Linked DNA regions of Homo sapiens: region 1 is linked to region 2. Evidence: fine-mapped expression QTL. A gene starts in region 2. The other region holds a variant in brackets. All regions are shown on one strand. Distances are from middle to middle.

The links. PIP is the estimated chance that this variant, and not a neighbour inherited with it, causes the effect.
Region 1: its variant is fine-mapped to the expression of CLUH in whole blood (TOPMed, PIP above 0.99). The same link has a PIP of 0.9 or more in blood mononuclear cells.

Annotation. Positions count from the first base shown.
Region 1 is chr17:2,682,164-2,694,623 of GRCh38, forward strand. PAFAH1B1 (platelet activating factor acetylhydrolase 1b regulatory subunit 1) reads left to right here. Exons shown (of 11, transcript NM_000430.4): 11 at 1-3,452. It overlaps CLUH (CLUH binding protein of NUMT mRNA), which reads right to left. Exons shown (of 26, transcript NM_001366661.1): 17 at 12,317-12,401; 18 at 11,960-12,113; 19 at 11,737-11,876; 20 at 10,617-10,697; 21 at 10,408-10,533; 22 at 10,198-10,319; 23 at 9,841-9,934; 24 at 9,598-9,732; 25 at 9,446-9,519; 26 at 7,224-8,614. The coding sequence ends at 8,431. It overlaps MIR6776 (microRNA 6776), which reads right to left and starts at 10,756; the gene lies at 10,698-10,756. LOC105371490 (a long non-coding RNA gene) reads left to right here and starts at 6,062. Exons shown (of 2, transcript NR_188262.1): 1 at 6,062-6,407; 2 at 6,593-7,124. RefSeq lists enhancers at 9,047-9,555, 9,556-10,063. The variant T/C (reference allele first, on the strand shown) is at 7,633.
Region 2 is chr17:2,703,845-2,719,945 of GRCh38, forward strand. CLUH (CLUH binding protein of NUMT mRNA) reads right to left here and starts at 7,920. Exons shown (of 26, transcript NM_001366661.1): 1 at 7,718-7,920; 2 at 518-720. The coding sequence starts at 7,817. LOC105371592 (a long non-coding RNA gene) reads left to right here and starts at 8,465. Exons shown (of 2, transcript NR_136412.1): 1 at 8,465-8,555; 2 at 8,638-8,989. RefSeq lists enhancers at 2,909-3,805, 5,022-5,221, 6,479-6,558, 7,393-8,289, 8,290-9,185 and silencers at 7,799-7,918, 8,049-8,228.

The sequences.
Region 1 (12,460 bases), 24 kb before region 2:
TTGGTGCCTGACTTGATGGCCTCATTTGGGGAAAAGTGGTGGTTATTAGGGCTTTTTCTGAAATGTGTATCTATGTAACATCACTTAAGTGTGCTTAATAAATCTTCTGTAAGGATTTTAGATGATAAGGCTACAATTCAGAATCTTCTGAACCATCTATGTAATGAATGGGGATTATACATTGGAATTTTTGTCATGACACATTTGCCAAATCAGTAGGATATATTTGTTTTGGCAGCCTATCACGCAGAGGCTAGTGGTATATTTATGTAAGAAAATGACTGTAAATCTCAAGAAAAATCTCAGCAGCTAATAGCAACTCATTTATTTCATTTTGGTCTTAATGCTTTGTAAACAGGTCAAAAAATACTGTCATACTCTAAGCTTCTATTTTCCACACTGGACATACTTCTAGTTGTATTCTCCATACTATTAGACTGTGTAGTGATGTGACTTCCAAGTAGAATTTAATCTCCCCATTGAGTGTGTCATGGTACAAATCACTATTCGTTTTTGGTGTTTTTTAGGGATGTGCAATGTGCATTACATAATGACAGAAATACTGAGAAGGTTCTGTGTGCCCATTTGAAAGGAGTGGGAGGAATACAGCAGTTTGTTTTTCAACATGAATCTGATATTGATTTAAACTGTGTTTCACTTACAAGTTTTAAAAAAATGACAGGGTTTAATGGAGCGTGCATAAAAATGTACTGTTTTCACCTTTTGTTTATATGTAAATGTTTGTAAGTATATGGGCCTATCTGTAAGTGGATAAGTCTGTATGTGTGTATCATACACATCAACCTCCATGTCCTTAGTCCTGGGTTTTTGAAAAAGTGCTAAAACGGACAAGTAGAATAAATGTTGCTGTGGAATGCCATGCTTTAGAACAAACCCTTTTTGATCTTAATGCTTCTGAAAACTAGGTCTGACTCTGGGGATTTTTTTCCAGCCGAAGGAAAATCACTTCCGTTATGTCCCCCTCTAATTTAGCCGCTCGACATTTTACACAACCCGGATATGTTGTATATTTTGACCCAAAGTTACAGGTAGGTTTAAGAGAATTTTTAGCCATGACTTTTGGAGCACTATTCCATTGTCAGTTATTAATAAAGAATTCCATTGCTTAGCTAACCAACAGGTTTTTTTTGTTTCCAAGAGAGTTATTTGAAAAGTTAACAGAACAATGAGATAACAGTGACAGTTTAACAAAGATAAAATTCTGAACTGCGTTTTATTCATTTGTGTACTATGTGATTTTTTAAATGTCCCCTTTAGTATTTAATGGAAAATTGGTTCCTGCAAAAGACAAAGGGTGAGAGTTAGCGTCCTGTAGATACACACAGAGACTAGGCCGTATATTAACTAGAAGCAGCTTTATGTCTAGCTTGTGTCTTTTTGTTTGTTTGCTTGTTTGTTTTTAGATTCCTGAGAGATGTCTCTGGAAGGGAAAGTTTTGAGAACTAATGGCTATTTTTGAGGACAAAAATTACATCTTAAGCTAATTCCTTAAATACATACAGTAGGTGAATTTTCAGGACAATATTGCCTCACAACCCTGCTTACATTGAAAAGTCTTTTTCCCTTAGCTCTTCTGACTGGATTTTTCTACAAAAACTATGGAAAATATCTTTGTTCTTGTTTGCTGCTATTTTCTGTCCTATTTTGAGAAATATAAATACATAGAAATGGTGCATCTTAACATTTGTTTGTACATGTATAAATGTCTTGTATTTTAATTCATTTTTAGCATGAATTGTTTAAGGGTAAGCCACAACATCTAGAAATCACTCATAGATATTGAACAATAAAGGAGAATGGTACCGATGCAGGAGGAAGCAAGCGTGTCTTCCCCTGCAGCACACAGCGACTTGCGTTGACAAAGGAGGAGGAAACGATTACTCTGTAAACAAAGTTATCCTTACTTGGGAGATTGCCACAGCCTGCTGCTGAGTTGAGTTACCAGACATCCTCCATGTGAGAAGCAGCGAACATTGAATCTCAGGGATGGCCCACAACTGGGTCCACATGTAATGAGCCCTGTTTAATAACGAAGGGGTGGGGGAGAGCAGTCCGTCTACAACCTGGAATCAGATTTGCAAAATTTCCTGCACTGCTGTCTGACACTGTCCTGTTGATGCCCTTTCTGACTGTGTTCTCTGTTTTCTCTGTCTGCTGTCTAACCCTGTGCCTTGCCTGGGATAAGGACAATGATGAGGTTACTGGTTTGGATTGTAAGTAGAGGACTTTTATTAATTGGTTTAGAGGTTCACTGCTGCTTTGTCACTTTCTCAATCAAATTGGCCACTTAAGAAATAAAGAGCTGGTAGAATTGCATCCTCAGATGATTATTGACTGTGTGTGTGTGTGAAAACAGACATTCCAGTGCCACCCAAATATATATCTGTAACGTGCCCAAGAAATCCTAGCTGCGCTCTTGAGAGTGCATGCCATGGAGACTGGTTTAGACACCGCGTGGAGCCTAGTTGCCTGTTGTCACGGCATCTTGCACTTTAGGAGACTAAGACCGTCCTGGTTCGTCTGTGTGTGGTGTGACCAATGGTGTGCCCAGAGCACTACTCTCAAAATCACTAGTGTTAGCAAGTCGTCCCGGGCTGGGGAGCGTTCGCCGTAGTCTTTGGAAGCTTTGGCTTTAGATTTACCAAGCCCCGCCTCCCCGCTGCCAGTGCCCTGCTCTCCCGTTCGCCTCTTTCTGTTTCTGTGTGAACTTTCCCGGTAATATCACTCGTTAAATAGGTTTTCTTTAAACTTAATTAAAGAAAAACTATTTAAAGGTAAAGGATATTTTGTTGACATCGGTGGCTCGATCATCCTTAAGCAACTGAAGTTAAAATTGTTGAAGGAAAAGGCACTTAAATTGGTTACTTTCATGTCCAGCTGTATATAAGTCCAGTGTGTTCATCTAGATGACGCAAAGAATCTCCTGGTAGAGAAGCGACATGTAAAAAACTGGTGGAAAAAGGTTTTGGATTTTTTTTCCAGTGGGGTGGGGGGAGGGCAAGCTGGATTTACAGGTCACGGCTGGACTGAATGGGCCTTTTTATCTTCCCACTGTATCATGGAAGTAGCTGCTTGCTTGTACTGTCCATCCTTCAGGCATCCCTAAAGCTCACTCTGAAGATGTTAGAGACAAACACAAACTCTTCGAGTTAAAGTTGATCCTGACACTGACATGAAGGCAAGCCTTGATTTCGTATGAACGTTGCTGAAGTGGTAATTGAGGAAAACAGTTCCCCAGATTGTTAAGAGTTCACTGAAGATATTGACACAATTTTAAAAAATCAGTAAAGGAATGTATATAATATTGCTCTCGTGTTTTACAGTAAGATTTGTTGCTCTCAGACTGTGTAAAACAAAATTTATTCATGTTTTCTGCATATTAAAAAATCTTATTGTACCAACTGGTAAACTATTAAATGCCTATAAAACTAGATGTGATTTTTTTTTTTTTTTTTTTTTTTTTTTTTGTCTTCCTTTGCACAGGGGAAATGCTGATAGAAAGTGGGGCTGTGTGTAGCTCCAGTCACAAAGAGTGACACGAATCGGTGTCAGGGCAGTAAGGCCTCATGAGCTGCTTTCCTTCAGGGCAGCACCCGAACTGGCTTTGCTGTCCCCCTTCCCCCGGGTGGAGGAGGGAGTGCCTCAGCCTGAGCCTTGCCATGGCATGCGTCTGCGGCACAGGCCCGCTCTCCCCAACCCTCCCAGCAGCCCGTTCTGACTGTGGCTATCGCTGTGGCCAGAGAGCCAAAGCCAGGATGGCTGGTTACAGGCCCAAGACTAGACTCTTGGGGACAGAGTCTAGAGATAAGGGGCCCTGCCGGGCGCGGTGGCTCACGCCTGTAATCCCAGCTCTTGGGGAGGCAGAGACGGGAGGATAGCTTGAGCCCAGGAGTTCGGGACCTCCCTGGGCAATATAGCGAGACCCCGTTCTCCACAAAAAGGAAAAAAAAAAGATGGGGCCCTACCCCCTTTGTTCTGTTAGCCTCTAATCTTGCTCAGTGGTCTTGGAATCATAAAAGTAAATCCTTAATACTGTTTTCGATTTTGGTTGAAACATACAAAATAAGAGTGTTCATCTTTGTCCCAGAAACCCCAGCTCTGCACTTTACACATGGCTGTATCTGTGGTGTATTCAAGGTGCCCTACAAAGGACAGTTTGGTGATGTGCTGGTTCCTTTCTTACAGCCCAGCTGTTTTCCTGCCTCCTATTGGGAGTAGTAGCCTGCCCCAAAATAGGAGCTTGGCCCAGAGCAAAAAAGGAATGGGCCATGCGCAGTGGTACGCCTGCAATCCCAGCAATTTGGGAGGCCGAGACGGGCAGATTGCCTGAGCTCAGGAGTTTGACACCAGCCTGGACAATACAGTGAAACCCCGTCTCTACTAAAAATACAAAAAAAATTAGCCAGGCGTGGTAGCAGGTGCCTGTAGTCCCAGCTACTTGGGAGGCTGAGGCAGGAGAAACACTTGAACCTGGGAGGCGGAGGTTGCACTGGGCCAGGATTGCACCACTGCACTCCAGCCTGGGCAATGAAGCAAGACCCTGGCTCAAAAAAGCAAGAAAAAACAAAGAAATTGGCCTGAAGTTAGTTCCCTGCACTTTTGCAGCTTTTCCATTTCCTTGCAAGACTCTTCCAGGCTGAGATCCAGATGATAGGGCCCCAGGGGCAGAGTTCTAGCGTTAGTATCACTATCCAGAAATGCTGTTAGCTGTTCAAAACCTGGCAAGTAACTCGCTGGCTTGTAACTGCCTCAAACCTCCTTCCAGGAGTCATGACTGTGTATGGCCTTTGATGCAGGGGGAGGGTAGCTGGCTGTGGCAGCTCTGTCCCTGCCTAGCCTGGTGAAACCTGACTTGTGTGCAGACGGTTCTTAACTGCTGATACACCAGAAGCTCTAGGACAGGCATCCTCAAAGTGTGTTCCCTGGTTCAGCAGAGCAGCAGCACCTGGGAGCTCACGCCTCAGAACCCCTGAGTGGAAGCGGTGCAGCCTGCTTGCTTGCTTGATTCACAATCTATTATAACAAGCCCTTCCAATGACTGAGGCAGGCTCAGGTTCGAGAACCACCGAGCTAAATGATTCAACTTCTCACCAAAGAAACTTGGGCACATCACTGGTCTCTTGGCCCCGCAGCTCAGGTCTGGATCCCGATCTTTCCTCTTTCATCCTTTTATTTATTTTTATTTTTTGAGACAGAGTGTCACTCTGTCATCCAGGCTTGAGTGCAGTGGGATGATCTCAGCTCACTGCAATCTCTTCCTCCCAGGTTCAAGCAATTCTTCTGCCTCAGCCTCCCAAGTGGCTGGGATTACAGGCGCGTGCCACCGTGCCCGGCTAATTTTTGTATTTTTAGTAGAGACAGGGTTTCACTATGTTGGCCAGGCTGGTCTTGAACTCCTGACCTTGTGATCTGCCCGCCTCGGCCTCCCAAAGTGCTGGGATTACATGTGTGAGCCACCGCGCCCGGCCTATCCTCACTTTGAACATGTGGAGTTTGTCCCTTTGTGACGATGTCCTATGATCTTCATTCCCACTTGGTCACCTGACCTTGACTGACTCTGTCTCAAAAATAAAATAATGGCTTACTCCCACAAATGAGGGCATTTCACCTGCCATTCGAGGATGGCTGGGCCTGCACTCTGTGGGGAGGGGGGGGTCCTGATTGATTTGGTAGTTTAGACCTTAGAGGTAGGGGAGAGGAAAATTTGGGCCACATCAGGATGCCTTACTCTCCAGCTGCAGGATATATAGGAATTTCCCCAATTTGTGTATGTGGGTGTGTGTGTGTGACAGTCTCACTCTTGCTGCCCAGACTGGAGTGCAGTGGCGTGATTTCGGCTCACTGCAACCTCAGCCTCCTGGGCTTCAAGTGATTCTCCTGCCTCAGCCTCCCGAGTAGCTGGGATTACAGGTGTCCGCCATCACATACCTGGCTAATTTTTGTAATTTTAGTAGAGATGGGGTTTCAGCATGTTGGCCAGGCTGGTTTTGAACTCCTGGCCTCAAATGATCCACCAGCCTTGGCTTCCCAAAGTGCTGGGAATACAGGCGTGAGCCACCACGCCTGGCCCACTTTTTAAAAAGTTGAAACCTGTCACCTAAAAGAAGGGAAGGAGAAAGAGTGGATTTCACACCTAGGGCCTCCATTTGCTTTATGAAAACAGCCCCTTGTCATTTGGGTCGTCAAAAGATGTCTGAGGGCACTAATACGCTTAAAGGATCAGCCAGGAAATAGGGGCCTCTCAGGTGACAAGGAGGCACAACCCTAACCAACCCCGATCTGTTCTCAGCTTCACAGGAGGCCCTGTTTTGAGAGGTGCATGAACATGTGGCTCACGTTCAACAACAAACACTCAGGAGAGGGGACAGAATGTTCAGGACACACCGGTGAGAGCAAAGGAAGCTGCTGCTGGGCTGGGGCTGCTGGGAAGTCTGAGAGGTTCTGTAGCAGGACACTCACTCGCTGGTGGCTGTCCCCGGGTGTCACCTAAAACCGCCAGGTCAGAAGCACCTTTTCTCCGGTTGGCTCAGGAAAACTGACAGACTCAGGGATGGAATTTTTTTCTTTTCAGAATTTCCAAGACGTACAGATCTCTCCAAGCATCCCAAAAGGCGTATGTTCCTGGTGGGGCCGAGGGCCTGCTCTTGGAGACAGATGGCGAGCAGCGGTCAGCAGCTACTGAGAGCTCAACTTCCCCTCTAGAGACAGGCTCTGCCGCTCAAGTCCACCTGGGTCTTGGCTCTCTGAATCCTGTCCGAGGGTGGCGAACTTGAGGCCCTCCTCCCTGCCCCCAGTGTCTCACCTCTGGGCAGTGCTGCCCACCCTCCTTCCTACCTCGAGTGAAGAGACAGGGGCAGGTGGCCAGCCAGGGGGGTGTTCAGTGACCTCACGGGTCCAGCATGCACAGGGCCTGGCCCCACAGCCCAGCACCCCTCCCCACCTGGCCTTCACAGTTTCTTCTGCACCTGGTGACAGGTGACATTCACCTGCACGACACTCCCGCGAACCTGGTGACGGACTGGCAGCTCGGTGAATTCCAGCTGAGTGCCTGTGATTCCACCCCCTTACCTCCCACTCAAGTGACAATGTAAGCGTGACCTCGAACTTGACCTCGTTTGTATCTATTCCTCTCCCAGTCACATTCCTGTCAGCCCTCACCATCCACCCAGACCGGGTTACAGAACACACAGGTGAGCCTGGGGCCGCAGGTTTCAAAAACTCACTTTATTCCAATGTGAAATGAGGACGTGATGGTTTAAAAACAAGAAAAAGTTCTTGCTCAGCGGTGGGGATGCTCTGCTTGCCCGCTCACGCCCATCCCCCTTGAAACAAGGTGTCTGGACGGACCACACCCATAAGCGGCTCTCCGCAAACCCAGGCAGACGCCCGTCTCCTCCGGGTCTCAGGGTGGCCACATCCTCCCCCACCAGGGCTCTGACAGCAGGCACAGAGCAGCAGCACGGGCAGGGTGGAGCGGGAGCAGCGTGTGGGGGCCCCCGCCACCCCCAGAGCTAGTCTCAGACCAGGAAGGGAGCTGGGCACCAGAGAAGCGACATCACGTCGGCACCTGTAACTCCCGGGATCCGTAATTGGGCCCCGCTTCCCCCAGCC[T/C]CGCCCCCGGCCCACTGTGCGTTCGGCAGCTCAGGTTAAAACTGAGGGGAGGGATACATTCAGACCGCAGGCCCCAAGGCTGCGCCCAGCTGGGTGCAGGGAGTAGGGAGCCGAGTCAGAGCCACCCACTGGGCTCTGAGGGCCCAGCAAGCCAACCCCGACCCCTCCGTTCGGGAGCAGCAGCCAGACCACGCCAGTCACAACGGCGGCTCCCGTCCCGCCCCAAACTAAAGTGCACCCCAGCCCTCCAGCCCCGCCACAGAGCTCCGGCTCCCCACCCCTCCCCACCGGGTTTTTCGGCCTAAACCCTGAACTTTCAGACAGGCTGGGCCCGGGGGTGGTGGCAGCCAAAGCAGCAGCCATCATGTCGACCATACAAATGACCTGAGAAATCCCGTCTGCGCGTCACCCACTCAGGAGTCACCCACTCAGGACTGGCTCGGGCTATGTACAGGGGAGAGGAACGGTCAACACTCACAGCCAGGGGCGCACTCGCACACGCCGGCCGGACGGCGGGGGCCGAAGCAACACCTGCCCCCCAGCCGGGAACTGATGGCCGCACACGCCATTCACGTGTCTCCAATGGGGCCTCTGCATCATCTATTCATTGAACCAGCGCAAAAACACCTTCTGCGGGGCAGGCAGGCCAGGCTCCCAGGAGGACACGGGGGTGGGGTGGGGTGAGACGTGGAGGAAGAGGGCCTTGCTTCCTCTTCCGCCCGCAGGCTCGCCCCCTTCTCCCGCAGTCGGGCTCCCTGGTGACGGGGCCGCTGGCTGGCTGTCCGTCTGGCTCCCTCTCTATCCCTGCACGCTCGGAGAAGGGTCCTTGGCAGCCGGGGGCTGGGAGCCCAGGTCTCCTGGGGCCCCCGCTGGCGCGGGCTCGGTAGCCATGGGCTCCTCGGCTCTATCCCTGTTTCTGCTGGCCTCCTGGAGCTGGTGCCGCCGCGCCACCTCGGCTTTCAGATTCTCCAGGTCTTTTTGGCTGAGGATAAGGGTGGGGATGGAGGTGGCTCTCAGAGGAGTCCTGGGGGCTCCACCCGCCTCCCGGCTTTCCTGTGGGATAAGCTCAGGCTCTGCGCTCTATTCAGTGGGGAATGTGTGTGAACAAGCGCTTCCCTCCTGAAGGCGGAAGGTCCCTGAACACGGAGAAGGTAAGGACCCCGCACCTGACCCGGCCTCGGGGCTCCCCTCGCTGCCCTCGGTGGCCTCCCTCCAGCGCAGGGGGAGGAAAGCGGAGTTGGGGGGCTGCTGCCACGCCTTGCTGACCAAATCCACTCCCCACAGGAGGCCACACTGCTTGTGGCCACCCCGGGGAGCCCGGGGCCTGCTCCTCAGCCCCCCCCCGCCGCAGGATGGGAAGCGTGGGGAGGGAATGAAGCCGCTTCTTAGGGACTGGTGGGAAAACGCCAAGATACTTTGTGTGAAGCAGAAACACCAAGGTCTTCACTCGCGGAATGCGAGGATGCTGGGGAAGATAAGCGGGGCGGGCCGGGCGCGATGGCTCACGCCTGGAATCCCAGCACTCTGAGAGGCCGAGGCGGGCGGATCGCAAGGTTAAGAGTTCGAGACCAGCCTGGTCAACGTGGTGAAACCCCATCTCTACTACAAACACAAAAATGAGCCGGGCGAGGTGGCGGACACCTGTAATCCCAGCTACTGGGGAGGCTGAGGCAGGAGAATCGCTGAACCCGGGAGGCGGAGGCTGCAGTGAGCCGGGATGGCGCCGCCGCACTCCAGCCCGGGTGACAGGGCGAGACTCCGACTCACAAAAAACCCCCAACCGGGAGACACTCGAGTGGGGCGGAGGCCTCACCTGAGAGGAATGAAGAGGATGCCGTTAATGACGTTCAGCTGCTCCAAGACGCTGGCCATGCTGGGGGCCGTGAACTGCGGGGCGGGGAAACCAGCGGTGAGCGGGGCTCCCGCGCTCGCCGGGCCGGAGGGGCCGCTCCGCCCCGGACTCACCTTGAGGGGCGGGATGTTGGCGCTGGAGCCGTTGCGGTAGATCTCGTTCATGGTGCGCTGCAGGGCCACGGCCTGCTGGGTCAGGCACTTGAGGTACTCGGAGCTTTCCTTGGTCTTCTCATGGTCCTCGCCCAGCTGCGGGGAGGCGGGAAGGGATCAGGCCCCCCCGTGCCCCCGCGGCCCCGCCCCCGCCCCGCCACGCCCCCGCCCCGCCCCCGCCCCCGCCACGCCCCCGCCGCGCACCTGCGTCTTGTAGATGGTGTAACCCTCCTTCTCGTGCTGCAGGGCCGACCGGAACTCAGCTTTGCTCTCGTAGACTCGGGCGACAAGGTGGTGGCTGCCGGGAGGCGCGGCGCGGGGCGAGGGAAGGGCATAAGTGGGCTGGGTGTGGGGGCCTGACTCGGGGGCCCGGGGTCTCCCGTAGATCCCTCCCTGGAAGCCACCGAGGGGAACAGCAAGTCCAGGGCTCAGGGAAGAGGGGGAGGTCGAGAGAAATTTTCTCGGGTGGAGGAAGACAGGAGCACTGGGTCTCTTCCCCGCCCCCGCCGGCTGCCCCGCAGGCCTCCGCCGGCCTTGGCGTTTGGACGGGCGGCCCCTCACCTGAGGGCCACCTTGAGGGCCTTGGGCCCGTGGTACTTGGTGCTGACGGCCAGCGCGTTCTCCAGGAAGCGCAGCGACAGGTCGTACTCCATCACCCCGTGCAGCACCAGCCCGATGTTGTTCTGGGGGCAGGCGGTGGGGGGCCCTGGTCAGCTCCCGGTCCCCTGGGATGGAGCTGGGTCCCTGCCGCCCCCCCGCCCCAGCACTCACGTCCAGCAGCGCCATCTCGGGGTGGTCTTCCCCGAACACCAGCAGCATGAGGTAGCGGGCGCGGTACAGCAGGCTCAGGGCGGTGGACAGCTGGCTGCTGGCGAAGCAGTACAGGGCCAGGTGCATCTGCGGGCGGGGCGGAGACAGGTCAGGGTGGCCGCGGACCCAGCCCCTCGCATCCCCCGGCGCGGGCGGCACTCGCGACTCACGTATTCCTGGATGGTGTTGGGGTGCTCGGTGCCCATCACCCGCTCGCTCATCAGCACCGCCTTCTGCTGGTTACTCAGGGCCTGGGGAGAGACAGTGGTGGTTGCCGCGGCGTGGGAACCCCCACTGCACCCAGAGCCCGCCTGGCCCCGGCCCAGCAGCCCACGGTGCCGCTCTGCAGGCTCCTGTCCCCTCCGGCTGCGCCCAGCACAGTGCAGCAGGGGGGAGGGGGATCAGCAGCAGCTGCTGCCACACCTTGAAGGGCAGGTCACGCTCCACAGAGAGCTCCACACACCCATGTCTTACACCCAACAAAATCTCCACAAACACCCAAATACAAACCTAAAACTACTAAAAATGTTACAAAAAAAAAAAAAAAGCCTGAGCAGGGGTGGGTCCCTTGAGGTCAGGAGTTTGAGACCATCCTGGCCAACATGATGAAACCCCATCTCTACTAAAAATACAAAAATTAGCTGGGTGTGCTGGCTCACGCCTGTAATCCCAGCTACTCGGGAGGCTGAGGTGGGAGAATCGCTTGAGCCCAGGAGGTTGAGGCTGCAGGGAGTCGATATCACGCCACTACACTCCAGCCTGGGTGACAAAGCAAGACCCTGTCTCAGAAACAAACAAACAAACAAACAACCCACCCATTTATAAACAGAAGAAAAAACAGTCCCTTTGCAGGGAGTAGGGATCCTAAGACATGCTAACCCTGAAACAGCCCTGGCCAGGCAGGGCACCCAGAACCCCACCACAGCCTCCACCAGCCCCGGCCAGGCAGGGCACCCAGAACCCCACAGCCTGCACTGGGCACAGAGGACGTGGGAGCTCGGTGGCATGCTTCCTGCCCACTCACGGAGTCTCAGGAGGCGTCCTTGCTGACGCCCTGTGGGGGGGTCCCCTGCCATCGCCTCCCAGAACTGACCTCACCGCAGCACAGGGTGCTCCTGAGCTCTCCCGCTCGGGACACAGTTACAGAGGGGTGGAGCCAGGGGTGGCCTGGGCAGAACCAGCGACTTCCTGGGGTCTCCCTGGACTCCACCCACTCCTCCGTCAGGGGCCCCCTCACTCCCCATCCCCCAACACGAGGCCAGGCCTTTGCTGCCACAGCCCAGAGGGTACCTCTGCGTAGTCGCCCATGATGTAGTGGAGGCGGGCGAGGAGGCGCAGGCAGGCGCAGGTCTCCACGTGCATGGCTCCGTAGACGTTGTTAAACAGGTTCAGGGCCTCATTGATGAGCTCACAGCCCTCCTTCAGGAAGCCTGCAGGGCACCCCCAGGGGTGGCAAGGTCAGGACGGGCCATGGGGAACCCCCACCTCCACCCAGCCCCACCTGGCCACACACCCTGCTGCACTTTGGCCTGCCCGCTCTGGAAGAAATGGAAGGCATCCGAGGCCTTGGGGTTGACGTGCTTGACCACGGGGAAGATGTTGAGCACGTCCTCCTCGGTGAACGCGGGCTTGTGGCGACTGTCGAAGCTGTACTCCTTCAGCAGGACCTGGGGGGCAGCCCCCCCACCACAGGAAGCCTCAGGCCCAGGTTCAGCGGGTTGGCACCTCCCAACCCACCAACGCTTGCGCACAGACGGCTACCGTGAAAAAGCCACTTCCCCTGTGGCCCTGGCCAGGAGTGGGAGCCTGCAGCAGGGACGCAGCGGGGACACAGCGGGGACACAGCGGGGATGCTGTGAGCCATGCCCACCTGGATCCCTGTTTTCAGCGAGATCTCCCGCAGGAGCGTTATCTTCTGCAGGCCGTAGGTCTCCACAGCCTGGTCCACGGTCTCACTGAGGAGGGAGCAGGGGGCCTGAGCAGCCCAAGCACCGCCGGGCCCCCCCAACACCGC
Region 2 (16,101 bases):
GGTGCCTGGGGCAAATGGCTTTCCCCTTCCAGAAGGGGTGCTCTGGGGCCCAAGCCTGCGGGTGCCGAGACATACGACGACCCTGTCTCGTTCCCCACTGAGTCACCGGCTTGCAAGACCTCCACGCTGGCTCTGCCCTTGGAGATAACCCAATACTACCCTCCCCTCTGGCAGATGGTAAAATCACGGCCCAGAGAGAGGTGACTTGCCTGAGGGCACAGAGCAAGAGGCTGGGGAGTCCTGGGATGCCAACACTTCCCAGCCACTATCACTCCCCTCCCCACATAGGGCTGGCAGGCCCAGCTGGTTGCTGTCCTCTAGCAATGGGGCAACGACCTGACCCTGGGCTCGATTCCCACGTCCACCACGCTAGCTGAGTGACTCTAGGGAGGGCACGGGATCCTCAGTTTCCTGCCACAAAATGGGGCCGGTAGGAGCACGAGCAAGGCTGAGCTTTCCAGCTCACCCTCCCCAGCAGGCTCAGGCCTGGCCCCCAGCACCCGTTCCTCCATCTTACCTGCAGGGAGAAGGGCTCGATCCCAGGGGCGAGGATCTTCACAGAAAAGCCCGTGTCCTGAATGACAATGACTTCCTGGCCGGTGGTCTCATCTCCCGGGCCGGCCTCGTCAAGCCCATTTTCCCTGGGTGGCTCGGCCGCCGCCGCCTCCTTCTTCAGGCTCTCTGGGCAGTCCCCGTTTAAGAGCATGACTGATGGCAGCTCTGCGGGTGACAAGAACGGGTCAGAATCAGGCAGCCTCGCTGGTCGGCGGGGCTGTCCGCCTGACCCCACACGGGGACACGTGCCTTCTGGAAAGGCATCTGCATGCCCTCGAGAGTCCCAGCCTCACGGTCGCGCCTCGCCCTCCGTGCACCTGCAGGCCACTTCCACACCCAGCCGCCCCTCCCAGCCACTGTTCCCTGGCCCACTGTGGTATGGCTTGCACCTGAACCCATGTCCCAAACCACTCTCCCCAGGGTCACCAAAGCCACCCTTCAAGCCAAGCCCGAGGGTCTCCTCCGGCCCTAACACACCTAGCTTCCCAGCAGCAGTTCCCCTCTTCCTCTCCTCTTCTCTGACCCCACACAGTGCCCTTGCCCCTCCCTCTCCAGCTCCATCCTCTTCCATCCCTCCTGAGCTGTGGTCCTGGGCTGCAGGGGGGCTGCAGGGGAGTGCCTAGGCCCAGCCTCTCCTGTTTCTGACCCCACCCCCTCCCATACACTCCTGCCCCGTGGCTCACACGGCCAATCCTGTCCTCTCTCCAGCCTTTTGGACCAAGGAGACCGCTGCCTCCCAGGCATCAACATGTGGCTGTCCCTGAGGCATCACTGAAGCCTCGTCTTGCAGGGACAGAACTCATCTTCCTCCTCAAACTGGCACCTGCTCTATCTAGTCACCCACCCTAAATCTCCCAACCCACCCACGGGACCCGGCCTCTGCAGCCACTGCCCTAGGGCAGGCATTTCCTCTATTTCAGCAGTGCCACCTGCAACCCTCCTAGGAAGCCCACTGCTTACAAGACCAAGCTTCTCAGGCCAGCGCTCTCAGGCACCCACCTGAAGTCAGCCTCAGCTCCTGCCTGCTCCCTGCTGAGGTCTAAGGACACCACACCATGCAAGCCTGGTACCGCCCACAGCCCTCCCACCGCCCTCCCACCGCTGTGCTTCTGTGTCTGTGCTGCCCCTGACATCCCATTCTGTACAGCAAACACTGACTCACCCTTCAAGGCCTAGGAGAAATAAACCTTTTCCACAGCCTGCCCAAATGACCCTTAATGGCAGAATCACACTCCCTCCCCCTTTCATTCCCAGAGACATTCGGCTGCACCCAGGGTGGCGTCCTCACCAGCAGCTCTACCCACCACCTTCTATCTTGCCCAGGCTCAACAAAAAAGGCAACAAATAAAGTACTTACTGCAAACCTCTAGCTACATCCAATATTTGAAGACAGCACCCAATCCACATGCTCCAGGGTGGGGAGCAGGTGACAAAACCTTGCATTCCTACCCAGGCACCAGTGGAACAAAGGAGAACCCCCTGTTCCGCTGAGGAGCCAAGGATCGCCTCTCAGTAACCCTCCAGCAGACACGGGCCTGCCTGGGCACCCATCTAGGAGATGAGGACCTTGGCCCCCAGGATCTGTCCATGGGCCAGGCTCACCTGCCTGGCTTGGCTTGAAGTTCAACGGTCCCAACTCTGAGGAGTGCCTGGGTTCCCTTCCAGAAAGAAGAGCTCGCCCAGCTCTGCCCATCCCATCTAGACCCCACCTCCCCTTCCCCACCCGGCTCTCAGGAGCGGGGACAGGTGCCTTTCCCAGAACTGTGTGGTCCCAATCCGGACCCACCAGAAACACGGAGCAGGAGCCTCAGGGAAGGGATGAGGCCAGTACGGAAAGGCAGAGACCGGGGGGCCTGGAGAGAGTCGCTCCCTTTCCCTGGATCCCCACGAGCAAACGAGAAACAGGACCTCTAAGAGCTCAGAGTCTCTTCCCCCTTACCCCAAAGAGGGGTATTTGAAGCCCAGAAAGGCTCGGAGCCTGGCCTAAGGTCAACCAAGTCAGAATGGGCCCCAGACTCCCTCCTGCAGCCCGCACCCTACGCCGCGGCACTCCCTCAACTCTGGCCACTGAGGACCTTCAGTAACTGTGCATGTCATGGCTCTCCACCCCACCCTCTCCAAGCCTGCAGTGGACTCCCAGGAACCACGAGGATGTACAAAGACCTCCCTTCCAGGATCCAACCGCCCCAGGAAGGGCACCCCCAATCCCCTCGCACGTGAGCAGCCCCACACACCTGCCTGACTCTAGTGACAGAGCAGAAAGACAGCCGGGGCGGTGGTCGGTCAGCTTGCAAACAGCAAGAGGCAGGGCAGCCAGGTGGAGGAACTGCCCCCACAGGGTCCCTGAGAAAGGCTGTGCTGGCTGCCAAGCCCCTGGAATAAGGGGAGAAGCAGGAAGGGCCCCCACCCAATATAGAACAGCAGTTTTGAGCTATGAGATCCCAAAAGTGGGGAGTCAAATACCTAGACAGAGACAGCCTGTGTTCTTTCGCATGTCTGGAATGGGAGGACAGAAAGGAGGGACGACAAGGCAAGGTGGCCGCGGCTCCCACTCTCCTTCCCCAGCCCAGGGAGACGACCCTCAGGGGGTACCTATTCCCTATCCCGTTTCAAAGGAATGCAGCTGGCTCCCAAGGGGCCTCCTCTCCCCAGGACAGCATGTTTTACCCTAATCCTTCCTCCTAGGAACCCCGAAGGTCTCCCCACCCCTGGATGAAGGCTGAGCGATCTCCCCCGCAGGCAGCTGGCTGGCTCACCAGGTCCCGGTGCTCACCTGGTGCAGTTGGCAGCTGCCCTCCCCTCGGCTCTGGAGTCTCAGGATGGCCGTGGCAGCAAGGCAGCCAGCTCTCCAGCTCAGCCCCAGCATTGCCCGGGTTCCTTGTTCCAGCCTCTGCCGCTACCCTTGCCCTAATGCAGCCAGTCGGCCCGGGGCTGGAGCTCCGGCTGGCTTCGGGTTTCAGTGGGGCCAGGCCTGCCATGGCAGCCCCAGGAAGGGCACACTCCCCCTGCCTGGCATCCCGCTCAAGGTCGGCCAGAAGGACGGCTGTGGGCCAGGAGAACCCGGTGGCCCCAGGACCCCAGGGGGAGCTGCTATCAGCACTCAGGCCCACCTCCCTATGCCCCCTAGAGAGGGGGTCACTGCCGGCAAAGCCGCTAGGGGGATCGGAGAACCCAGAATTTGGGGTACCTGGACCCCTCAAGATTGAGGGCCTAGGAGACTGGCTGGCAGGGGCAGGGCCCAGCAAGGGGGTCCTCTCCTCCGCTCCCATCCCAGTGGGGGTGAACAGGACCGCTTCTGCCAGCTGCCGCCAACAGCTGGCACAGACCCGGGTCCAGGCCATAAGGTGGCTGCCTCTGCCCACCAGTCCCAGACACTGAGCACCCCACTGTCCCTGGGCCAAGGGCCTGGCTGGGACCTCTGGCTCCTGCTGCCCCCTGCAGGTGACCTGGCTGCCAGCCCCTTCCTGGGAGTCACTGGTTCTGGTGGAAGGGAGGGGGATGGGCCCCCAGCTTCCCAGAGGACAACTGCACCCGTGCCCCTGGCCTCCAGGCTCCATCAAGAAGCTGGCAGGCTCCATCTTCCCTTCCCAGCAGCCCCGGCTCTGCCAGGAGGGAACCAAGTCTCTCCCAGGGGAGAACAGAGCTGGCAGCAAGAGGCCAGTGGCCGCACGGCGGGGGAGGAGGTGCCCAGCTGGCCAGGGCGCCTTCCCAGGGCCTCTGACATGCTGCCAGTGCCCAGTAAGGGCTGCCCCAGCATCCACCCTACCCAGGGTGGGCGGGAGCCAGGCTCTCACTCCATCCCCTCCCCTCCAGGACCAGGGATCAGGCAGACCCTGGGCTGCTTCACAGCCCCCATGGAAGGTTCTGGGTCTCACACAATGACCAGAGGAGAAGGACCAGGCCTAGACAGAGCCCCTCTGCTCCTACCCTCTCCTGAAATACACCCTAACCCTCCGGAGAGAGGGGTGGGGCAGGGCAGCCTGGCAGTGACCCCAGAGAAGTGTTGACAACCACCTGCACTCTGATTACCACAGAGCCAGGACTCACGCTAGGCCCAGCCCACGGCAGCTCCCTAAACCGCCGTGCCAGCCCATCTCACCTGAGGAAACTGAGGCTCCAGAAGGCTAGGAAGCAGCTGCCCAAGGTCACAGAGGCAAGAGGAGCCAACCCAGAGCAAGAAAAAACCAGGTGTTACTATCACATTTGGGATTAAGTTTAAAAAAAAAAGGAAAGAAAAAACAGGAGTGTCAGACGCCCAAGCCCATGGCTTTTGAGTCACTCCCACTGAGCGCGGGCTACCCACCCGCTCCCACCGACCTGCTCCCGCCGACCCGCTCCCATGGACCCGCTCCCACTGACCCACTCCCACTCAGCGCAGCCCACCCACCCCCTCCCGAGGGGCCCGGCAGCACCCACAGGTAGGCTGCACCTGCCTCCTCGTCCAGGCCTCAGCCTCTACTCGGGGGGGGGGGAGCAGAACTATCCCAGTCACAGCACTCCCCAAGGCCTCTACACCCTTGGGCCAATACTCCCTCCTCTCATAGTCCAGGAGCACCTCTGAGGATGTGAGCTTTAGGGGAGGGGAAAAGGAGGTCTTCTGCAGAGCGGGAGAGCCGTGCCCCAACAGCACTCTGCATACACGCAAACTCAGATGCTAGTGAAGAGACAAAGCACACCCTTGCCCCGGCCTGGAGGCGCCGGGAGCTCAAAGGCGGCAGAGAGGAGGAACTAGAAAAGAAACTTAGGCCTCCCAGAGGACCTGTGTGCTGCCCAAGCCAGGCACAATCTCACTCAGAAGACTGTGCCAGGGCCAGGCCACGCCCCAGCCAAGGCCTCAGCAAGTGAGGCTCCAGCAGGAAGTAGGGTCCGAAAAGGTGCATCACCCGTCCCGGGAGCCCAGGGCTTCAGGGAAAGGCAATGGGGCGGGCAGGCGGCCTATGGAAGAACCTACAGACCAGGCACCTGTTTGCCTCCTTCCTGTCCCACCCAGGCCAGAGGCAGGCGTTCAGGGCCTGAGGACAGTTCAGAGTTCCTCAGGCTGCTCTCCCCACATCCCATCCAAGATCCTGTTGCGGAGCTCCCATAAGCCCCTAGACTCCTTCCCCAGCTGCCAGCCTCCTCCTCCTCCCCCTCTGGGCCTCAACTCCAGGGAGCCCTCCCCTGGGCAGAAGGAACCTGACGCACCACTGTGGACCTGAAAAACCTGCCTGTTCTCTTAACCCCTAAAAGCCGCTGTATTCCCAGGAAGGTAACCAACCCTTGCCCCCGACCCTCAATGGCCTAGATCAGCTCCTTCCTAAGGGGGCTGAAGAGCCTTCCAGAGCTGGATCTCAGAGGTCAGAAGCCTTGGTTCTGATGCTCAGGTGGGCCCCAGCTGGGGGGTCTTCATTAAGGCTCCTTCCTTCTTTCAATAGATCCGGGCTGGCTGTAACGTAAGTCCTAGCTAGCTGTACTACCTTCCCAGGGACGTAGGAGCCCATGTCCTGCCCACGAGTATGCTCCCAGTTTCCCCAAAACAAATAGCTGTGCCCTTCCCTGACTCAGTTTACCCCCGACAGAGCCCCCCCACCCCCAGCAGAGTTAGGAAGGGGCTTCACTGACTCCCTCACAGAAATCCTCCAACAGACGCTCGTCAGCCCCCTAGTTCTCAGCACGGGATCCAAACCAACACGCCTGTCCCAGCTTCCTCTGGGCCAGGCCACGGCAGCCTTGGCTTGCTGGCCATGAGCTGGAATCCAAACACTTCCCTTAACAGCTAAATCGCTGTGTGACCTTGGGCAAGTCACTTCGACTCTTCGGGTCTCTGCTAGAGGGGAAATCAGCCAACCTCCTCTCATCCAGCCTGCCCCCACTGATTCAGAGCCACATCAGCACAAAGCCTGGTAGGTTGGGGCGATGAGCATCTGCTCTTCTGCCCAAACCTTGGCCTTGTCTAGACAATCAGCAGTACTGCCCCAGCACCTGTCCCTCACCCCAAGGCAACTCCGCTATGATGGGAACAGGGTCAGAGGGCTGAACGCTGTCCCCATCCTGATTCCCAAGTCAGCCCTGGCGCACTCACTGAAGCTAGGAAGGGAGATGATGAGGCGTTAAGACCACAAGTCCCAACTGAGGACAGTCGACGGAGGAGGGAGGGACTGGGGGACAGGAGTAGCTCTGCACCTCCACTGCCACCCAGAGCAAAGAGGGCCTGAGGAAGATGACGACTGAGGGCCTGGGAAGGGGATTCCAGCCCCAAGGCTGGAGTCTGAGACACGGTGGAGGGAACAGAAGGAAGAGAAGGGGCTCAGGAGAAAGGGAAAGCAGGCCCCACCCGAGACAAGCTGCAGCCACTGCCACAGTCACCACCATACAGCCCCCATGGGGGATCGCTGGGAGCTTGACTCCACACTAACGACCTTTGCCTTAAAAACAGCAACTCTGGTCTGACCCACTTTTCGCAATAAGGCAGGTTAATGATCAAGTTCTGGCACAAACACTTCCCCCTGCCAAGGAGTTTGGCTCTGCCCCATGCAAAGGCAGACGCCCCCTACACCAGGTCGGCCGAGCAGGCCAACACACCTGAGAGTCTCCGCCACAGCCTGAAGACCTGCGGTTATAGCCTGGCCTCAGGGCATGAACCAGGGACGCCCCTCACAACGCACACCCCGCACCTCGTGCTCTTCCCACAAACCAAGCCTGGGAAGCCTCGAGCGGAGCTTCACTCCCAGGGCTGCAGCCCTGCGCACAGGGGATGCCTGGGAGGCCGCCGCGGAGCAGGTGCCGAAGGGGGCTGTCCCGCAAACGTCGGAGCGACCCCAGCTCAGAGAGCTCCCATGCTCGGGCGCAGAGGGGGTGGGGCCGCCGATTCTTTCGGTCTGCGGCGGCGGCGCACCCCGAAACCGCGTGTGCGCGCACGTGTCCCCGCGATGAGGCGCGCGTGTGCCCGCCGAGGGTGCCAGCCGAGGCTGCCCTCCACGGGACCGCACGTGCGAAACCCGGGCCGCAGCCGGGGGCGACTGTGAAGGTGACCTTCAGCGCGGGGGCGACCCGGTGAAGGCCCCAGCGAGATACAACCGGGCCCGACGCGGAGGGAAGGCGGCGATCCCCGCGGAGTCCCGAACCCGCCCGCCCTGGTCCGGCGCCCCCCGCCCAGCGGCCCGCTGGCCCTGGCCCCGCTCACCGGCCGCGCCCGGCCGCCCCTTGCCCCCGGCCTGCGAGCCGTGTTCCCGGGCGCTGTCGGCCGGGGCGGCCGCCGGCAACTCGTCCGTCTTGATAACCATGGTGGCGGGAGCGGGCGTCCGCCTCGGCTGTCCGCGCCGCCCGCCGCGCCACTAACCCAAGTGCCCTGCGCGCCGCGGCTGCTGAGGGAAGGACGGAGTCACCGGCCCACGTGGTGCGCGCCGTGGCCTTTGACCCCGCCGCCGTTTCCCTGCCCCACCCTCGCGCCCGGCCCAGCCCACGGCGGCCCGCGAGGGACAAAACGCGCCGCGCCTGGTTCCCCGCCCACGGACGCGGTGACTTTCCAGAACGTCTTAAAGGCAACGCACTCTGACTCAAGGCCCAGGGAGGCTGGGCGCCCTCGCGGGGCGGGGCCTCGGGGAGACTCCCTGCTGCTCGCTGCCCGTCGGGCGGGCACTGTGACCTTGGGTGGAGACTGGTCTGGTTCTGCCATGGCTAATCCTCCCCTCTCCAAGGATCCCCTGTTTTCTCTTGCAGATTTGCTAAATGACCGCGCAGTCTGTCATCTGCGGTGTTCGCGTGACCCTCAGCGCCCTCCCCACCCGGCAGGCCCTTTCCCGCCGAATGGGTGCGGCTGGATTATTGAGGGAGTGGAGGGTCGCTTAGGGCACGGGCACGAGAGGCGAGGGCGAGACGTGGCTAATGGGGATCAAGAGTCAGAATGGACCCGCCAAACTTTGCCCCGAGCCAGAACGGGCTCCCTACCCGCGTCCTCGACCCATGGGTCCTCACCTCCAGGCTGGTGTCCTCATTTTACAGTGGAGGAGGCCGAGACCAAGGTCACACAGAGAGCAAGGGGTAGAGCCGGGTCTGACTCCATCCACAGCCAGGACGCTTTAACTCGTATTTTTCACTTGGCAGGGGCTTGGCGGGGACGGAACGGTGAGGTCAGAGAATGCTGCAGAGGGGACATTGGGACCAGGTCTTGCAGTGAGTTGAAGTGCTCCAGGCAGAGAGCGCCGGTGGGTCTTTCCTGGCCAGGCCGCAGGGGGCCTTTGGGAAGCACCCGAGGCCTATAACCTTCGGAGCGTTTGTCAAGCTCTAATGAGAACTGGAAAGCTTCAGCTTCCCGAGGTGGGCTGGGAGGGCCTTAGGTAGGGCCTCGCACAAATTGCGAAGGAAAGCCGACCTTGTTCTGGAGAGCACGTGGTGAGGAAAGCCAGCGACTTGATGTGAGCATTTAAACGGGAGGAAGGAAGATGAGAACTGGTAAGATTCTTCTCGGCCGGGCGGTGCAGCGGCTCACGCCTGTAATCCTAGCACTTTGGGAGGCCGAAGCCAGGCGGATGACTTGAGTTCAGGATTCGGAAGTTTGAGACCAACCTGGGCAACATTTCAAAACCCCCGTCTCTACAAAAAATATTGTTTAAAAAAAGCCAGGTGTAGTGGCACGCGCCTGTAGTCCCAGCTACTTGGGAGCTGAGCTGGGAGTATCACTCAGGACGGCTCAGATTGAGCCCAGGAGTTCCAAGCTGCAGTGAGCTATGATCGCACCACTGCACTCCTGCCTGGGTGACACAGACACCGTCTCAAAAAAAAAAAAAAAAAAAAAGCCGGGCGCGGTGGCTCACGCCTGTAATTCCAGCACTTTGGGAGGCAGAGGCGGGCGGATCACGAGGTCAGGAATTAGAGACCAGCCTGGCCAAGATGGTGAAACCCCGTCTCTACTAAAAATACAAAAATTAGCTGCGCATGGTGGTGTGCGCCTGTAGTCCCAGCTACTCGGGTGGCTGAGGCAGAAGAATCGCTTGAACCCAGGAGGTGGAGGTTGCGGTGAGCCGAGATCGCGCCATTGCACTCCAGCTTGGGCAACAAGAGAGAAACTCCGTCTCAAAAAAAGAAAAAAAAAGTGTGCATATATATATATAGTGTGTGTATATATATATAGTGTGTATATATAGTGTGTATATATATAGTGTGTGTATATATATAGTGTGTATATATATAAGTGTATATATAAAATATATATATTTATAATCAATATATATAAAAGTGTGTATATATGTGTGTATATATACACATACATACTTATGTGTGCGTGTGTATATACGTATGTGTATACACACACTCGTTCCTCTTTTGTTACACAAATGTGCAGAAAATTGTACCTGCTATTCTTCACTCTGATTTTTTTTTTACACGCTTTCAGTAGGTGTTCTCATTCCATTTACGCTGGATAATGTTGTATTGTTTGGTTGTACCATAATTCTTTTAGCCGGTCACCTGACTGATGGGTACTTAGTTTGTATTCATGAAACTCCAGGGTTTTTGAGAATTGTGCCTAGTGGCCCAGTGCAGCTGAAGTTGGAAGCCCGTGCATGTTGCTAATGCTACTCATAATAGGAAGCTCAGTTTTAACCCTGGGGGTTGGGGAAGAGCAGCAAGCCTGGGGTTAGAGAAACAGACACGTATAAAAAGCATCATCCAGCCGAGTGCGGCGGCTCACGCCTGTAATGCCAACACTTTGAGAGGCCGAGGAGAGCAGATTGTATGAGCTCAGGAGTTGGACACCAGCCTGGGCAATATGGCAAAACCTCATCTCTACAAAAAATACAAAAATTAGCTGGGTGTGGTGGTGTGCGCCTATAGTCCCTGCTACTCAGGAGGCTGAGGTAGGAGGATCACTTGAGCCCAAGAGGTTGAGGCTGCAGGATCTCGCCACTGCACTCCAGCCTGGGCGACAGAGCAAGACCCTGTCTCAAAAAAAAAAAGAAAGCAAAGAAAGAAAAGAAAAGAAAAAAAAATCATCCTCTGATCACATTCTCCATAGTCTGGTGGTCTGACCTCTGACCACACATTAAGCAGACTGATTCTTGCTTTCACACAGCTTCCACCAAAGTCTTTTCATCATAGTCTTTTTTTGGGACAGCATCTCGCTGTGTAGCTCACGTTGGAGAACAGTGGCAAGATCTCAGCTCATTGCAACCCCGCCTCCCGGGTTCAAGCGATTCTCCTGCCTCAGCCTCCCTTGTAGCTGGGACTACAGGCGCCCGCCACCATGCCCGACTAATTTTTGTATTTTTAGTAGAGAGGGGGTTTCACCATGTTGGCCAGGCTGGTCTTGAACTCCTGACCTCAGGTGACCTGCCCACCTTGGCCTCCCATAGTGCTGGGATTACAGGCGTGAGCCACCGCACCCGGCCTCCATCATAGTCTTAACAGCACATACTCCCATTTTCCCCAGCTATTTCCACCATTGCCTATAACAATGTGCTATGGTTAAGGTGATCGCATAGTTTATCATTAAAACCAGAACACTTTTGAGAGTGCAAGTGGAACCTATTAATAATGACACAGGGGCAATAGGCATAAATTGAGACCCTCTTGGCCATACTGGGATGTCTGGGTCTTGGGTGAGGAGTCCAGCTGCTAGACCCGGGGACTTTGTTATTTTTTATTTTTTTTTGATATGGAGTCTTGCTCTGTCGCCCAGGCTGGAGTGCAGTGACGTGATCTCAGCTCATTGCAACCTCTACCTCCCGGATTCAAGTGATTCCCTGCCTCAGCCTCCCAAGTAGTTGGGATTACAGGCATGCGTCACCATGCCCGGCTCATTTTTGTATTTTTAGTAGAGATGGGGTTTCACCATGTTGGTCAGGCTGGCCTCGAACTTCTGACCTCGTGATCCGCCCGCCTTGGCCTCCCAAAGTGCTGGGATTACAGGCATGAGCCACCGCGCCTGGCCGACCTGGGGACTTCTTGAAGGCAAGAACCATAACTTATTTATCTGGGTGTTCCCAGCATCTTTCCAGAGCCCAATGCATGGTAGGTGTTTAATGCACATTTATTTATTTTTAATTTTATTTTTAGAGACAGGGTCTCATTCTGTTGCCCAGGCTGGAGTGCAGTGGCATGATCACGGCTCACGGAAGCCTCCAACTTATGGGCTCAAGTGACCCTCCCGTCTCAGTTCCCTGAGTAGCTGGGATTACAGGTGCACACGACCATACCCCACTTAATGCACATTTGTTGACTGAGTGAATGATTTCAGTGTAGAAGGTGCCAGGCCCTGAGGGCTCCACAGGATGTGGGGGGGCAGCATTGCTGGCAGCCTGGGGTTTCACCTTTGAGCCCCCCATTATTTATTTATTTATTTATTTTTTGAGACGGAGTTTTGCTCTTGTTGCCCAGGTTGGAGTGCAATGGCTCAATCTTGGCTGACCACAACCTCTGCCTCCCAGGTTCAAGCAATTCTCCTGCCTCAGCCTCCCCAGTAGCTGGGATTACAGGCATGCGCCACCAGGCCTGGCAAATTTTGTATTTTTAGTAGAGATGGGTTTTAGTAGGGTTTTAGTAGAGTTTAGTAGGGTTTTAGTAGAGATGGGTTTAGTAGAGGTGGTTTCTCTATGTCGGTCAGGCTGGTCTCGAACACCCGACCTCAGGTGGTCTGCCGCCTTGGCCTCCCAAAGTGCTGGGATTACAGGCGTGAGCCACTGTGCCTGGCTGAGTCCCCCATTATTTATAACAGTTGGCTTTCCTTTCAGACACTCCTTTTGTGTACTGTATGCTTTGACCTTTGTGTCTAGAACTTCAGATCATTTCCATAATGCCTGACTGAGACCCACCAGCCTGAGCCCACGGAGGATGCCAAGCGGAGGCACCTCTCCCTATCCTCCTCAGGGTCAGTGAGCGTCCGTAAGTGCCTACCGGTCAGCATGGGGATCGGTGACCAGTTTGTCCATGGGCCTAGTGACGAACCAGTCCCAGCAGCTTTAGAATCTGCAGTTTAAGGCCGGGCGCAGTGGCTCACGCCTGTAATACCAGCACTTTGGGGGCCAAGGCAGGTGGATCACCTGAGGTCAGGAGTTCAAGACCAGCCTGGACAACATGGCAAAACCCTGTCTCTACTAAAACTACAAAAATTAACCTGGTGAGGTGGCGGGTGCCTGTAATCCCAGCTACTTGGGAGCTGAGGGAGGAGAATCACTTGAACCCAGGAGGCGGAGGTTGCAGTGAGCCAAGATCATGCCACTGCACTCTAGCCTAGGTGACAGAGCAAGACTCCGCCTCAAAAAACAAAAACAAACAAATAAAATAATCTGCAGTTTATCTTTGGTGGATCCCTTCCCCTTTCCCTCGCAGGGTCCTGTTGCACAGCAGGCGTCCTTAGGGCTACCTCATGGCACTCCTGAGCACTGCAGTTTTCCTATCTTTTGGGTCCCTGCATAAAGATAAGGAGGAGGGTTATCTAGTCTGAGACCCAGCCTGCATAATTAGCCCGCTCAAAGCCTCCCACCTCCCTAATTACTGTTATCATGGATACACCCACTCAGCAGGCCATTCCTACATTCCTATTTCCCCCTCCTTTGCACAGTTCCCTAGGGGGCTGGAGAGGTGATGTGGGAACCCAAATCCCTTCGACTGCGGCACAGAGTCCCCTACTTCCCTGGCCAATCTCTGGGAACCCCTAGAAAGGAAGTTCTCCACCTCCCTCAACCCCAAAACTGCATGGGCAGAACTGCCAGGAAGGAAGGGGTAACCGCCAGCAAGATGCCCTGAGCTTCAGTTTCCCCATGTGTAAAATGAAGGGGTTGCACAGATGATCTTTAAGAGTTATCTGAGGCTGGGCGCAGTGGCTCTCGCCTGTAATCCCAGCACTTGGGGAGACCCAGGTGGGCAGATCACTTGAGGTCAGAGGTTCGAGACCAGCCTGGCCAACATGGTGAAATCCTGGCTCTACTAAAATACAAAAAAAAAAAAAAAAAAAAAATCTGCTGGGCATGGGTGGTGTACACCTACAATCCCAGCTACTCGGGAGGCTGAGGTGGGAGGATCACTGGAGCCCGGAAGGAGGAGGTTGCAGTGAGCCGAGATTGCGCTGCTGCACTCCAGCCTGGGTGACAGTGAGACTCCCTCTCAAAAAAAAACAGCCGGGCGGTGGCTCACGCCTGTAATCCCAGCACTGTGGGAGGCTGAGGCGGGCGGATCATGAAGTCAGGAGATCGAGACTATCCTGGCTAACACGGTGAAACCCCTTCTCTACTAAAAATACAAAAAATTAGCCGGGTGTGGTGGCAGGTGCCTGTAGTCCCAGCTACTTGGGAGGCTGAGGCAGAAGAATGGCGTGAACCCAGGAGGCAGAGCTTGCAGTGAGCCGAGATGGTGCCACTGCACTCCAGCTTGGGTGACAGAGCGAGACTCCATCTCAAACAAACAAACAAAACAGTTATCTGGTTTTGACATTCCATATCTCCACCCTGAACTGTGACTCTGGGATGGGCTTAGTCAAGCATCCCCAGGGGTCTGTCTGTCTGGGGAACTCTAATGCCTGTGCCCTGCCCTCCCCACACTTCTCTTTCTTTTTCTTTTCTTTTTTGGGACAGAGTCTCACTCTCTTGCCCAGGCTGGAGTGCAGTGGCATGACCCCGGCTCACTGCAGCCTCTGCCTCCCAGATTCAAGCGATTGTCCTGCCTCAGCCTCCAGAGTAGCTGGAATTACAGGGTTGTGCCACCATGCCGAGCTAATTTTTGTAGTTTTAGTAGAGATGGGGTTTTACCATGTTGGCCAGGCTAGTCTCAAACTCCTGGCCTCAAGTGATCCGCCTGCCTTGGCCCCCCAGAGTGCTGGGATTACAGGCATGAGCCACTGCGCCCCGCTCCCTTTCTTTTCTCGTTTTCTGAAATTGTACATGAGACTCAAGAGTCTTGGGCAGATGTTTATCCAAGGCTGGGCCTTCGGTTCCCTAATTGCCCCAGGAGATAAAAGGCTAAGAACAAGAAGAGGCCTGGGCCAGGCTGCCTGGGCTTGCTGCAGGTCCTGGTCCCAGCCCATCCTGGGCCCAAACCTGAGTCTAGAGGCTTAAGCAAGAAACTGAGTTCAAAATAAAAAGTAGGAAAAAACTGGCCAGGTGTGTTATTTTCCACGTGGCCACTGCATTTCAGCCTGGGCAATAGAACAAGACTGTGTCAATATATATATATTTTGAGTATACATATACATGTGTGTGTGTGTTGTTAGCTAGGCCTGTACTCTTCAGCTGCTCAGAAGGCTGAGGTGGAAGGATCCCCTTGAGCACCAGAGTTCAAGTCCAGCCTGAGCAACACAGTGAGACCTTGTCTCTAAAAAAAACAAACAGCCGGGAGTGGTGACTCATGTCCCAGCACTTTTGGAAACCAAGGGGGCGGGTCACCTGAAGTCGGGAGTTCAAGACCAGTCTGATCAACATAGTGAAACCCCATCTCTACTAAAAATACAAAATTAGCCGGGCGTGGTGGTGCATGCCTGTAATCCCAGCTACTCAGGAGGCTGAGGCAGGAGAATCCCTTGAACCCGGCAGGCAGAGGTTGCAGTGAGTTGAGATCGTGCCATTGCACTCTAGCCTGGGCAACAAGAGTGAAACTCCATTTCAAAAACAAAACCAACAGAAACAAAAAAAAATTCCACACCTAAGTTTGGGAGGGGGAGGGGATTTATTGATCCATGTAACAGAAAAGGGTAGGAGTCTGTGAGCTTCGGGCATGGCTGGATCCAAGTGACTTGATTATCTGGAATTGTCTCCATATCTCTTTGTTCTGTTTCTCTCTCTTTTTTTTTTTTTTTTGGAACGGAGTCTCGCCCTGTCGCCCAGGCTGGAGTGCAATGGCATGATCTCGGCTCACTGCAACCTCTGCCTCCCAGGTTCAAAGGATTCTCCTGCCTCAGCCTCCCGAGTAGCTGGGATTACAGGTGCCCACCACAATGCCCGGCTTTTTTTTGTGTGCTTTTTGTAAAGATGGGGTTTTACCACGTTGGGTAGGCTGGTCTCGAACTCCGGACTTCGTGATCCGCCCGCCTCGGCCTCCCAAAGTGCTGGGATTACAGACGTGAGCCACCGCGCCCAGCCATTCTGTTTCTCTTGTGGTAGCTTTATACTCAGGCAGCTTTACCCCTTGTAGTGGCAAATGACCTGCCAGATTTCTTGGGTGCCATTTTAGCCACCCAAGAGTTTGTCCTTCTCCATAGTCATGCTTTGTTCACTGCTGAACCAAACGGCACCTAACATGAGGTGCTGAATGAATGTCTCCAGCAAAAGGCCCAAGATTGACTCTTGTTGGCTCAGATGGAGTTGCATGTCTTCTTCCGCCCGATCACTGTGACCTGCCACGCCTGGGCCACATGGGTGGAGTCCGCCCTCCCCACACATGGACTGAGATGGGTGCAGAGCAGTTCCCCAGAAGGAAGAGATGGGTCCTTCCACCTGGGTCCTTCCTTTAGGAGGAAGGAAGAGATGCGTCCTTCCTTCAGGAGGGTTGCAAGCAAAGCCACTTTTTTTGGTTTTGGTTTTGGTCCCCCGTGTCCTTAGAACACAGAGCTGCTGCCTTTTTCTCTGAGTCATCCCCAACATA